Linked DNA regions of Homo sapiens: region 2 is linked to region 1. The links come from fine-mapping of genetic effects on plasma protein levels. Region 1 holds a variant in brackets. A gene starts in the other region. All regions are shown on their reverse strands. Region 1 overlaps AKNA (AT-hook transcription factor). Region 2 holds the start of MEP1A (meprin A subunit alpha).

What was found. PIP is the posterior inclusion probability: the model's chance that the variant is causal. Protein levels are from antibody-based Olink assays in UK Biobank. Linkage for the fine-mapping came from a reference panel and not from the study's own genotypes, which makes the PIPs less certain.
Region 2: MEP1A starts here. The variant in region 1 is fine-mapped to the plasma level of the MEP1A protein (UK Biobank, PIP above 0.99).

The regions. Positions count from the first base shown.
Region 1 is chr9:114,384,614-114,387,528 of GRCh38, reverse strand. All of the region lies in intron 1 of AKNA (AT-hook transcription factor), which reads left to right. Among named protein-coding and RNA genes, the nearest start is that of AKNA, 1.9 kb to the left of the region's middle. RefSeq lists enhancers at 735-884, 1,655-1,714, 1,835-1,884, 1,905-1,974. The variant C/A (reference allele first, on the strand shown) is at 1,379.
Region 2 is chr6:46,791,725-46,794,639 of GRCh38, reverse strand. MEP1A (meprin A subunit alpha) reads right to left here and starts at 1,251. Exons shown (of 14, transcript NM_005588.3): 1 at 1,173-1,251; 2 at 1,064-1,088; 3 at 924-974. The coding sequence starts at 1,241.

The DNA.
Region 1 (2,915 bases):
CAGAGACGATGCAGGCATGGGCAGCAGGCCAGGAGGCAGCGACGGCGCCGGGGGGTGGTCCCTATTGAAGGAGTGGCCCCTTATGCCAGCTGCGTAAGAGCAAGGAGAGGAGCCAAGGACAGTCCGAGGACCAGCAGACCCAGCTCAGCTCTTGAGGATGGCAAGACCAGAGCTGGCAACAGCCAGGGCACCGTTTCTCTTTCTCCTCGGCCTCTGCTGCTGGAGCGGGCTGGGGGCAGGGAGGACACAGAGAGGGAGTGGCTGGTGCTTCCTTGTGGGACTAGAGTCCACACAGCTGGTGGGAACCCCTTGAGAACAGCAAGTCTGTGCCCTGCCAGCAGGTGGGTGGGGGTATGGTTGAGCCTTTTTGGAAGGTCTGGTTACTGATTTGGGGGGTGGTCTTCCTTCCCCATCTCCCTGACACATCTGACAGCCTTGGTTTCAGAGTTGCGGTACCCCAGCTTTGAATCCTCTGTCTGCGCTTCCTGGCTGTGAGGTCTTGTGAGAGCAGGCCATGTCTCTGTGCCTCAGTGTCTTCATCTGGGAGGTGTCAGGGTGTGGGTGGGGGTAGAAGCAGGGTGGCACCCTGGACAGCTCTGGCTGGATGGGAAGGGGCTGCAGAGGGCACGGGGAGGCTGTGCGGGCTGCGTAGCTGTGCTGGCAAAGGAGAGCCTGGGCGTCTGGGCAGTTCTGAGGGATTGAGCCATAAAGGGAAGGGTCCCTGGCTGTGGAATGACTGAGCGGGCGGAGAAGCCCTGTGTGGGTGGTGGGGAAGAAGAGTCCATCCCACCCAGGAACTGAAGATAGACACCTCAGGGGTCTGTTAGACCCTTGAGAGAGCAGGGGCAGTGGCGGCTTGGGTGTAAGAAGGAGATGTGCAGAAGGAGGGTGCAGTGGCTGCTACTTCCTTGTGGGGCCAGTTTCTCCAGGGATGGCGGGGACCCTGAACTCCATAGCCCTCCCCAGCTCACACTGCTGGAGTCTTCACCAAACCCCACTCACTGCCTTTTAGGAGCAGCCCTGCTGCCCTAACGAGGGCTGGCTGGAACAACTCTGCCTTTATCTGGCATGCAGGGACACCTGCCCATAGCTCTCCTTCAAGGTCAGGCCATACTTTCAGACCTACGTGCCTTTGCCTCCGTGCTGTTCCCGCTGCCTGGAATGCCCTCCCCAGTCTTCTCCCCCAAATCCTCATTGTTTCTCAAGCCCACCTTAAAGCTTCCTTTGGTAACACTTCTGTATTGTACTACCCCCCACCGTTTAAAATCTTGGAACACTTTTACTCTTTTCTATATTCTTTGCATCTTACGTAGCGCCTGGTATATAGTAGGAAGTCATAGGGCTTTTTTAAAAAGTTAATTTGCGCCCACTGGGTGCT[C/A]AGTATGTATCTTTGTACTTTGAAATGTGACCTCAGGGAGGAGGAGAGAGGTTAACAGTTCTGAGGCTGTTGCCCTTAGAAGCTGAGTCAATCAGGGACTTCAAAGCTCTTTGAGTCCCATACCCTGCCTCCCAACCCACCCTAGCAGGGTGATATCCCCTTGCGATATCAAGAGCAGGTGGTACTTTCTCTATTTTACAGTGAGGAAAATGCAAGCCCAGCTATACACAGTGAGTAACAGCAGCCAGGACTAGCACCTGTCTCCTGATGCCCAGCCTGCTTCTCTATCACAGCATCGTCCCAGCCTGAGGTTGGCAGGTAGTTGGCACTAACGTGTGTTTGTTGACTGACTAGCTGACTGGCCAGTTCTGGGGCTTTGTGGTGAGGAGGGCCATGGCTCGCATGGAAGGCAGAGGCCTGGCTCAGGAAAGGCTCACTGGTTTAGGCGCCTGGGGGCAAGTGCGAAACTCTAGTCAGTCACTGCAGCTGCCTCTGACGTGCACCTTCCCCTGGTTACAGTGAGATTTCTGCCACGACTGAGTCATCCCAGAAGACAGGATGTTCCTCTTTGTGCACCCAGAGGGCTCTGTGATTGGGCAGGCTGCTCTGTGGCAGAGCTAGAAAAAAAGCCCTTTAAAAAGTCAAAAAACCGCACACCTCCCCCGGCCCCTTCCTCAGCAGAGGCTTCAGAATCAGAAAAGCAACAGCTAAATTGTAGCCTCTTCTCCACCTGCCATAACAGCAGGAGCCAGGAGGCCTAGTGAACTTCAAAGGGCAGGCCCTGCCTGAGGCCCTGGTTTAAAATGCAGATTCCTGGGCCCTATCCCAGGGCCACTGAGTCAGGCTCTCTGCAGGTTGTTTCAGGAAACTGCACGCTTAGAGGATTCTTAAGCACACTGAAGCTTAAGATCCCTGGCAGGGATTTCCAAGAAGGGTACAGGCCCTGCAGAAGGTATGAGAAGCAAGGATTAGAGCTTCTATTTAAAATATAGTTGACCAGCTGGGTGGGTGGCTCATGCTTGTAATCCCAGCACATAGGGAGGCCGAGGCAGGAGGATCATTTGAAACAAGGAGTTCAAAACCAGCCTGGGCAACGTGGCAAAACCCCATCTCGACAAAAAAAAATTTTTAAAATTAGCCAGGCATGGTGGCGCATACCTGTGGTCTTAGCTACTCAGGAGGCCGAGGTGGGAGGATCGCTTGAGCCCAGGTGGTCAAGGCTACAGTGAGCTCTGATTGCCATTGTACTCCAGCCTGGGTAACAGTGAGACCCTGTCTCAATAAAATAAAATACAGTTGATCCTTGAATAATACAGGGGTTAGGAGTGCCTCATGCAGTCAAAAATCTGCTTATAACTTTTAACTCCCCCAAAACTTTATCAATAGCCTGCTATTGACTGGAAGCTTTGCTGATAACATAAACAGTTGGTTAATGCATATTTTCTGTCTTATATGTATTATGTACTGTTTTCTTACAATAAAGTAAGCCAGAGAAAAGAAAATGTTATTAAGGAAATCATAAGGAAGAGAAAATCTA
Region 2 (2,915 bases), not on the chromosome of region 1:
ATCAACTAACTGGCTTCTCTGTGAGTGAGACAAAGCCAGAAAAATTGACCCTTAGTTATTGGTATGTTAGTTTTGTAGCCTTCAGATAGCACTGAGCTATTAAGGTATGGGCTACAAGATCTGGAAGTAAGCCCCATCACTGCTACCTATGATCTTGAGCAAGTCACTCTACCCATGAGAAGCCACCTGTCGCTTCCCAAAAAAATGAAAACAGCACTTACTCCACGACAAGACTGGACAAATAAATATGCAATTGCATATAAAAGCTTTTGTAAACTGAAGGTACTTATTATCATGAATAGCTCTGCTTCCACAAATCCTGACCTAAGACACTGGGAATGCAGAGGCTTCTCTCTCATTTCAGAAGCAGGACAACAGAGAGAAAACAGAGATGATGACTCAGCTTCTCTCTCCTCTCAGTAATGGATGAGACTGATGAATTTCTTCAAGAAATATATTTGTAAATGAGATGTCTAAGTGGAGATTGCTTTACACTCACCCCTAAGTCTCAACCGAGGAGTTGTTAGTGAATATGATGGGCCAGTGGAGGGGTTGGGTTTTGTTTCCCCACTAAATATAACCAGAGGCTTATTCTTATATTTTTCTTTAACAATCGGAATAATTATCTATTTGCTTTCCTTTTCCTCCAAATACAAATTGGAAAAATAAAATTTTTATAAAGAGAAACTTGTTACATATTTCTAGATCCATTGAGGACTTCCTAGCTCTCCTAGAAAGTCTGGTCTAACTATCTTCTCTTTCCGCATTTTTATCTTTCAGAAAATGCAATTTCTCACAAAGCACCAAAAAATATTTCTCCCCCAGAGAATCACAATACAGTATTAGGAAGGAAAGTGTTCAGTAATCCCACCACTGGGTTTCAAGTAATTTCAAGACTTTAATAACACAAAAATTGAACTCACCTAAATTGATTTCTGAAATATCCTTCTGTTCACCAAAATCTGCATCATGTACTGTTAAAAGTGAGAAAAAAAATTATTATTAGTCTTGCCGAAGGAAAAAAGTTCAAAAACACTCTCTGTGCATTTGAACTAATTCTTACCATTTTCTTCAGGAAGATACTTAATCTGAAAAAAATAAATATACAGAAAATGGATAATGTATACTAGAATTAATATTTCTAAATATCCAAAAAGCAGGACTCGACTTACCGGTACAGCTGCTATGTGGGCAAAAAGCAAGGTAAAAAAGAGAATGCAAGTGGATCTAATCCAAGCCATTGCTGCAAGTGAGCTGATTTTAGCACACACCTTGTCATAAATACCGTTTAGACTTTACCCTGACGGTCGTATTAGAAACTTTGACCCTTCCATATGTACCGTAGTGCCAATAAAGGTTGTCAAAGATAACATCATTGACTCTTTCGAGGACAAACACTAAGTTTACCTTAAATGCTTAAGCTCCAAAGACTGGGGAAAAGTTTGAAAAATTAATACGGAAATGAGCATATAAGAACTAATAACATTCCTATAGGGCAGCCATAGCCATTCATATCATAAAACAGGATAGACGATCCCCTTAACAATAAAAATAAAAATAATTTATAAAATTATTATTATTTAATTCTAATAAAATATAAATTCAAATTTTATGGAAATGTTATAAAGCAATTATTGAAGGACATAAAAATACCTGACTCTCTCTCTATATGTACATATGTATGAAATATTAATAGATTGTTTTAATATTAATCTATAAATTCATTGTCATTCTAGTAAAAAATCTAACAGGGTTTTCAGTGGAACTTGCCAAGCTGACAAATGGTTCAATTCGCATGAAAGAGTAAACATTGAAGAATAGATAAGAAAATTCTGAAAAGGCTGAATAAAGAGAAAAGAATTGCCTCAAAAGAATATCAGGAGCTTTGGTAAAGTTACAGTAATTAGAGTGTAATAGTTCCAAAAATAAAGATAAAATGAATCTATAGACTGGAATAGGTAATATCCAAATAGATGCAAGCATATGCAGGGCTTTTATGTATAAGAGGAACCAAAAAGGCAAGAGGGAAACTTGGGTCTCTTTCATAATAATGTGGGAATAATTGCATTTCCATATGAGGAAATACATTAAATGTACACCTGATACCATTGACAAAAATAAATTCTAGATAGATTAAAAATTTAAATATGAAAATATAAACTTCAAAAAAGAAAATATAGGAACATATTTTTAACCTTTAGGTCAAGAAAGATTGCTTAAACATGAAAAAAACATAGAAATTACAGAGGAAAAGAATAATACATTTGACTGTATCAAAATTTAAACTTCTTTATGACAAAAACATAACATGATTAAAAGACAAGCCACAGGTGAGAGATGATATGTATACTGCATATAATTGAATAAGAATAAGTATTCAGGATATGTAAAGAATTTCTACAAATCAATAAAAAGAACAGGAGATTATCTAAGGAAAAAATGAACAAAAAATATGAGTAGCAAATTCACAAAAGACCCAGATGGCCAATAAATATGTAAAAAGATTTTTAGCCTCGTAAGTAATCAGAAAAATTATAGGTTCAAATAGCAGTAAAATACCACCTCAAGCTAAGATTGGCATAAATTAAGAAGACTGACAATATCAAGTGTCAACAAGAAGGTAAGAAAATAGGAAATCTAGTAGGACATCAATTTGATGCTATCTAATGAAGTTGAAATGTGCACAGTTCATAAGATAGAAACTTCACTTCTAGGTCTATATGCTAAAGGAACTCACACATATGTGCACAAAATTCCACATAGCATATTCATTGAAGTTTTTTTGTTATGGTAAAGAATGGGGAAAATGTGTTTATACTAAAAGAAAAGATAAATTATGGAATATATTCAGCCATGCACAGGTAAATGTTTAATAATCGGCTCTTTTAAAAAAAGTAAAAACAAACAAGCAAACA